Linked DNA regions of Homo sapiens. The gene in region 2 interacts genetically with the main gene of each other region. Each region holds a gene or a part of one and is shown on either strand. Other genes may lie near its edges.

Region 1 (3,654 bases), on a different chromosome or scaffold from region 2:
CACTCTGTCCCAGGCATAAAAAGATACTCATCTCAGTTTTGTGACTTGTTTGGTGACTAAATCCACTTCCCCTCTGTCTCTACTTTCCCATCCACCAAATGAAAGTTAGGAAGAATGCCAACTTAGGAAGAGCTTGGCAAGTGCAGTACTTTAAAAATAATGAAATTATCATGGCCTTTGGATTAACGTATTTGGTTTTGTTTTGTTTTTATTTTCTAGTTATTAAAGAGGGTGTACGGGAGTTTCTTGGTAAATCCAGAATCAGGTATGTAGTCATGTGAGCAACTATGGAATGACATGGGAAGAGAGGTGTCCTTTTTATATTATGCTTTTTTTACCCAAAGGATTTCGTTTAAATATTATTACAAATATTTCTGCATGAGCCCATTCCTAATTTCAACTCCGTCCATAAAAATAGCTTTTAAGGGGCTTTGCTTTGTCCAATATGGAACACAGTAGAGGTACAAAATTGATGTGTGACATTTTTAACATTTACTTGATGGGGCCACATGACTCTTACTTAATCTTTCAGCCAGAGGGCCACATTTGTTTGTTCATGGTGATTAAAATGGCTTTGAAAAGAATGAGCAAACATTGATTCCCACCCTCGGCCCTTAGTAATTCTGCATACTACATATTTGGAGAAAGAAGAGGAATATTCACCACACTATTCTTGTGATTTCAAGTAATAAAAATCAGACCCTTTCTTAATCCAGTCTTCTAATAGGTTGTCTCAACATTCATGGCCAGAGGAATTGAAAGGCACCGTGTCATCCTTGAATAGAACAGCTATGTTATACTGCTTTAAAAAGGAGGTTTAAAGTGGAAAAACTGAACAGCCTTTTTACCCTGTGATTCAGTGGCATGTCTCAAATTCTGAGGCATTTAGCAGGACCCCAAAGTGAGAACCAGGTAGTAAGACCATTGGAACATAATATTTTTTACTCAACTATTACAACTTTGGTACCTTGATTAGAAAAGTCTTCTAAGAAGGAAGTTCTCTGTCACTCTTAACAGCAGTTACTTGTGCTAGCTTATTTCATCACCTCACCTATTTTTTCAGACAGTCTCATTCTGTTGCCCAGGCTGGAATGCAGTGGTACAGTCATAGCTCACTGCAGCCTCCTCCAAATCTTGGGCTCAAGCAATCCTCCCGCTTTAGCCTCTCCGGTAGCTGGGAACTACAGGCACATGCCACCATACCCAATTAATTTTTTTAATATTTTGTAGAAACAGAGTCTCACTGTCTGCTGCCCATACTGCCAAAACAGAGTAAGGAGGTCTCAAACTCCTAGCCTTGAGCAATCTACCCACCTCAGCCTCCGCCTCCCAGAGAGTTGGGATCACAGGCATGAGCCACCATACCCAGCACCTTTTTTTTTTTTAATCTCCAAATTGGCGGGATGAATGTGTCACAGAAATAAAAGCCAAGATAACACTGTAGGCTTTTGGCAAAATCAAGGTATTAAAAGAAAGAAACAAACAGATCTAGAACAGAAAAATCATGTCCAAAGTCTTGGGCATGCTTGTCACAGCCAACATCCTGACATGGAAAGTTTATGTTTCTGTCCCTGGGCCTCCTTCTACCTCCCACTAAATCATAGACATTGCCAGATTGCAGACCCTGTCTTCATAGAAGTGTGAAATGTAAAAGTGTGTGAAAGTAGTGTCTCAACCAGGTGCAGTGGCTCACACCTGTAATCCCAGCACTTTGGGGAGGCCAAGGTGAGTGAATTGCTTGAGCTCAGAAGTTCAGGACCAGCCTGGGCAGCATAATGAGATACCTGTCTCTATAAAAAATACAGAAATTAGCCAGGCATGGTGGCAGCCACCTGTAATACCAGGTACTCAGGTGGCTGAAGCACGAGAATCGCTTGAACCCAGGAGGCAGAGGTTGCAGTGAGCTGAGATTGCGCCACTGCCCTCTAGCCTAGGCGACAGAGCAAGATTCAGTCTCGAGAAAAAAAAAAAAAAGACCGTAGAGTCTCTCCTCCTCTTTTTTAATGGGTTTATCTAGGCACGTTTGGAAAACTCAGCAAGTTATACTAGATTTTTACTTCTCTTCATCCTCAGTATATTCTGTTCATCATGTTAGAAGCCTTACTTAAAGACAGACTTTACCTTAGCTATAGTTTTATTTGCTCTTATTTGGCTTCCTAAAACTAGCAAACCTCAGCTCTAAATCTTTTCTTTTTTAATCTAACCTTGTAATCTGTGTGCTTATTTGGTTTTCAAGTACCCAAAATAGAATGATGATTGATATTATTTAATACTGGAGTGCCTCTCCAGTATTAAATAAAATGTGCTAAGCATTATCTAGAGCAAAGATTTAGCCCATCCTCCCGAAGAGCCCATGCTCAACAAAAAACACAGACCTCAGCCGGGCGCGGTGGCTTATGCCTGTAATCCCAGCACTATCGGAGGCCAGGGCGGGCGGATCACCTGCATTCAGGAGTTCAAGACCAGCATGACCAACATGGAGAAACCCCGTCTCTACTAAAAGTACAAAATTAGCCAGGCCTGGTGGCGCATGCCTGTAATCCCAGCTGCCTAGGAGGCTGAGGCAGGAGAATCGCTTGAACCTGGGAGGCGGATGTTGTGGTGAGCCGAGATCATGCCATTGCACTCCAGCCTGGGCAATAAGAGTAAAACTCCATCTCAAAAAAAAAAAAATACAGATCTCAGGAATGCTTTTGGGAAAAAATGAAATAGTAATGAGGTTTCAGATACTTAGAAGTGTGAAAGCCATACAGTTCTGGTGAAGTTATTCCCGTCAGTTGCCTAGAATATAAAATGATCCTCAGTGATGTAGAAATATTCTTGCAAAAACATCTCTAGGCAGTTTGACACTTATTAATCATTTGATTCTATAATCAAGTGTTCCAGCCGGCTTCTGGGAATTCATAGTGGACATGCTGTAAAAAGGCAGGTCATCCAATGGTTTCAGTCCATGTTCTGCACCCGTATTGATGACCTGTCATGTTCCACACACTTTAAGTATTGAACATTCTTTTAATGCTCACAACATTCTCCCCTATCTCCGCACCCCCTGCCCTGCTCCTTTTTCTTTTTTTCTTTTTTTTTGAGACAGAATTTCACTCTTGTTGCTCAGGCTGGAGTGCCGTGGCGCGATCTCAGCTCATTACAACCTCCACCTCCCGGGTTCAAGCAATTCTCCTGCCTCAGCCTCCGGAGTACCTGGGACCACAGGCGTGTACCACCACACCCAGCTAATTTTGTATTTTTATTAGAGACGGGGTTTTGCCATATTGGCCAGGCAGGTCTCGAACTCCTGACCTCAGGTGATCCACCCACCTTGGCCTCCCAAAGTGCTGGGAATACAGGCTTGAGCCACTGTGCCCAGACCACCCTACCTGCCCCCCACCACCAATTTTTTTTTTTTTTTAACAGATGAGGAAATTAACAAGTCAGGCAATTTTTTTTGTTTTTGTTTTTTTTTTTTGGAGCTGGAGTCTCGCTCTGTTGTGCAGTGGTGCAATATCAGCTCGCTGTAACCTCCACCTCCTGGGTTCAAGCAATTCTCCTGCCTCAGCCTCCCAAGTAGCTAGGATTACAGGCGCCCGCCACCATGCCTGGCTAATATTTGTGATTTTAGTAGAGACAGGGTTTTGCCATGTTGGCCAGACTGCTCTC
Region 2 (3,654 bases):
AGCCCATTACTTGGTAACATGAATAAAATATTTTATGAAAAATAACTATTTTCCAAAACAAAACCAAAACTTAGAAAAGTGGTATTGTTTCACACTTCAGTAAATCTCTTTAATGATGTGGCTTAATAGAAGATATGGATTCTTATATCTGCATCTGCATTCAATCTATTATGATCACACATCTGGAAAACTTGTGAAAGAATGGGAGTTAAAAGGGTAAAGGACATCTTAATGTTATTATGAAAACAGTTTTGACCTCTTGCACACCAGAAAAGTCTTAGTAACCTGAGGGGTTCCTAGACCACATTTTGAGAACTGTTTTAGGCTATGCAAACTGGTTGGGGGGAGGTTGGGGTAGGCAGAGAGCTAGAAGATACATTTTAGTGTAATTCTCCTCATCTATTCCTAATTGCTTTGGCCTACATTTGAAATAAAGCGTGGAGGCAAACGGGATAAGATACATGTTTGTAGTGGTTGTTAACTTCACCCTAGACAAGCAGCCAATAAGTCTAGGTAGAGCAGAGTAAGGCGGGGAACTATGCCGTGACCGTGTGTGATACAATTTTTCTAGCCTGTGGTGCTTTTTGCGGCAGGGCTTAGGAGTAAGGTTAGTATGTTATCATTTGGGAAACCAAATTATTATTTTGGGTCTTCAGTCAATTATGATGCTGTGTATATTTAGTGTTTATCTACAATATATGCACATTCATTAATTTGGAGCTACTCATCCTATAATAAATAGTTGTGCATTTACTCCCATTTTTTTCTGCATTTCTCTCCTTATTTATAATTATGTGTTACATGAGGGAAAGGAGGTGAAATTAAACATTCATATTATTTCAAAAAATTTGAAACAACTAACTAAAAAATATGTTTTATTTTCTGTATGGTGTTTGTTATACAATCTGTCAATATTCATGCACCTCTTGGGAGACAGTGTATGAAAAGCAAAGAGTAACAGTCACATGGATTACTGATTACTGAGATATATTCACTTGCATCTTTTTTTTTTTTTGAGACGGAGTGGCTCTGTCGCCCAGGCTGGAGTGCAGTGGCGTGATCTCGGCTCACTGCAAGCTCCGCCTCCTGGGTTCACGCCATTCTTCTGCCTCAGCCTCCCAAGTAGCTGGGACTACAGGCGCCCGCCACCACGCCCGGCTAATTTTTTTATATTTTTAGTAGAGACGGGGTTTCACCGGGTTAGCCAGGATGGTCTTGATCTCCTGACCTCGTGATCCACCCTCCTCGGCCTCCCAAAGTGCTAGGATTATAGGCGTGAGCCACCGTGCCCGGCTCACTTGCATCTCTTAACAGCTGTTTTCTTACTAAAAACAGTGTTTATCTCTAATCTTTTTGTTTGTTTGTTTGTTTTGAGATGGAGTCTTACTCCGTCACCCAATCTGGAGTGCAGTGGCGTGATCTGGGCTCACTGCAACCTCTGCCTCCCGGGTTCAAGTGATTCTCCTTCCTCAGCCTCCCCAGTAGCTAGGACTACAGGAGAGCGCCACCACGCCTGATTAATTTTTGTATTTTTAGTAGAGAGAGGGTTTCACCATATTGGCCAGGCTGGTCTTGAACTCCTGGCCTCAGGTGATCCACCCGCCTTGGCCTCTGAAAGTGCTGGGATTACAGGCATGAGCCGCCGCACCCGGCTTTCTAATCTTTATCTTTTTTTGTGCAGCGGTGATACAGGATTATGTATTGTACTGAACAGTTAATTCGGAGTTCTCTTGGTTTTTAGCTTTATTTTCCCCAGAGATTTTTTTTTTTTTTTTTTTTTTTGAGACGGAGTCTTGCTCTATCGCCAGGCTGGAGTGCAGTGGCGCCATCTCGGCTCATTGCAACCTCGGACTCCTATTTTCCCCAGAGATATTTCACACATTAAAATGTCGTCAAATATTGTTCTTCTTTGCCTCAGTGTTTAAATTTTTATTTCCCCATGACACAATCCAGCTTTATTTGACACTCATTCTCTCAACTCTCATCTGATTCTTACTGTTAATATTTATCCAAGAGAACTACTGCCATGATGCTTTAAAAGTTTTTCTGTAGCTGTTGCATATTGACTTCTAACACTTAGAGGTGGGGGTCCACTAGGAAAACTGTAACAATAAGAGTGGAGATAGCTGTCAGCAACTTTTGTGAGGGTGTGCTACAGGGTGTAGAGCACTGTGAAGTCTCTACATGAGTGAAGTCATGATATGATCCTTTGAGAGCCTTTAGCCGCCGCAGAACAGCAGTCTGGCTATTTAGATAGAACAACTTGATTTTAAGATAAAAGAACTGTCTATGTAGCATTTATGCATTTTTCTTAAGCGTCGATGGAGGAGTTTGTAAATGAAGTACAGTTCATTACGATACACGTCTGCAGTCAACTGGAATTTTCATGATTGAATTTTGTAAGGTATTTTGAAATAATTTTTCATATAAAGGTGAGTTTGTATTAAAAGGTACTGGTGGAGTATTTGATAGTGTATTAACCTTATGTGTGACATGTTCTAATATAGTCACATTTTCATTATTTTTATTATAAGGCCTGCTGAAAATGACTGAATATAAACTTGTGGTAGTTGGAGCTGGTGGCGTAGGCAAGAGTGCCTTGACGATACAGCTAATTCAGAATCATTTTGTGGACGAATATGATCCAACAATAGAGGTAAATCTTGTTTTAATATGCATATTACTGGTGCAGGACCATTCTTTGATACAGATAAAGGTTTCTCTGACCATTTTCATGAGTACTTATTACAAGATAATTATGCTGAAAGTTAAGTTATCTGAAATGTACCTTGGGTTTCAAGTTATATGTAACCATTAATATGGGAACTTTACTTTCCTTGGGAGTATGTCAGGGTCCATGATGTTCACTCTCTGTGCATTTTGATTGGAAGTGTATTTCAGAGTTTCGTGAGAGGGTAGAAATTTGTATCCTATCTGGACCTAAAAGACAATCTTTTTATTGTAACTTTTATTTTTATGGGTTTCTTGGTATTGTGACATCATATGTAAAGGTTAGATTTAATTGTACTAGTGAAATATAATTGTTTGATGGTTGATTTTTTTAAACTTCATCAGCAGTATTTTCCTATCTTCTTCTCAACATTAGAGAACCTACAACTACCGGATAAATTTTACAAAATGAATTATTTGCCTAAGGTGTGGTTTATATAAAGGTACTATTACCAACTTTACCTTTGCTTTGTTGTCATTTTTAAATTTACTCAAGGAAATACTAGGATTTAAAAAAAAATTCCTTGAGTAAATTTAAATTGTTATCATGTTTTTGAGGATTATTTTCAGATTTTTTTAGTTTAATGAAAATTTACCAAAGTAAAGACCAGCAGCAGAATGATAAGTAAAGACCTGTAAGACACCTTGAAGGTCATGGAGTAGAACTTCCATCCCAAGCAGATGAGGATTTATTTAATCTCAAAGACCTCCAGGAGGGGACATTCCCCAACTGTCCTTGTTAACTCATTTTCAGAACATATTTATTAGCATATTTTACATGTAATTTGGATCTTCATGTTAAATTTAACATCAGTGGAGATGGAAAATAAGCATATCGCCTTGTCTTTGAAATAGCCCTATATTGTTAGATTGTTTCTTAGGCTTCTTTACCCTGGGTTAAGCAGTCCTAATACTTTAGCATTT

What was found. Genes that interact genetically often act in the same process or in processes that back each other up.
Region 1: changes in KRAS (region 2) and ARPC2 are lethal when combined (synthetic lethality), as found in Homo sapiens cells (2 studies listed by BioGRID, with this or other methods).

The regions. Positions count from the first base shown.
Region 1 is NC_000002.12:218,234,133-218,237,786, forward strand, and holds part of ARPC2 (actin-related protein 2/3 complex subunit 2), read left to right. Parts: intron 1-219; coding exon 220-265; intron 266-3,654. UniProt on the Homo sapiens protein: Actin-binding component of the Arp2/3 complex, a multiprotein complex that mediates actin polymerization upon stimulation by nucleation-promoting factor (NPF).
Region 2 is NC_000012.12:25,244,276-25,247,929, reverse strand, and holds part of KRAS (GTPase KRas), read left to right. Parts: intron 1-2,534; 5' UTR 2,535-2,545; coding exon 2,546-2,656; intron 2,657-3,654. UniProt on the Homo sapiens protein: Ras proteins bind GDP/GTP and possess intrinsic GTPase activity. Plays an important role in the regulation of cell proliferation.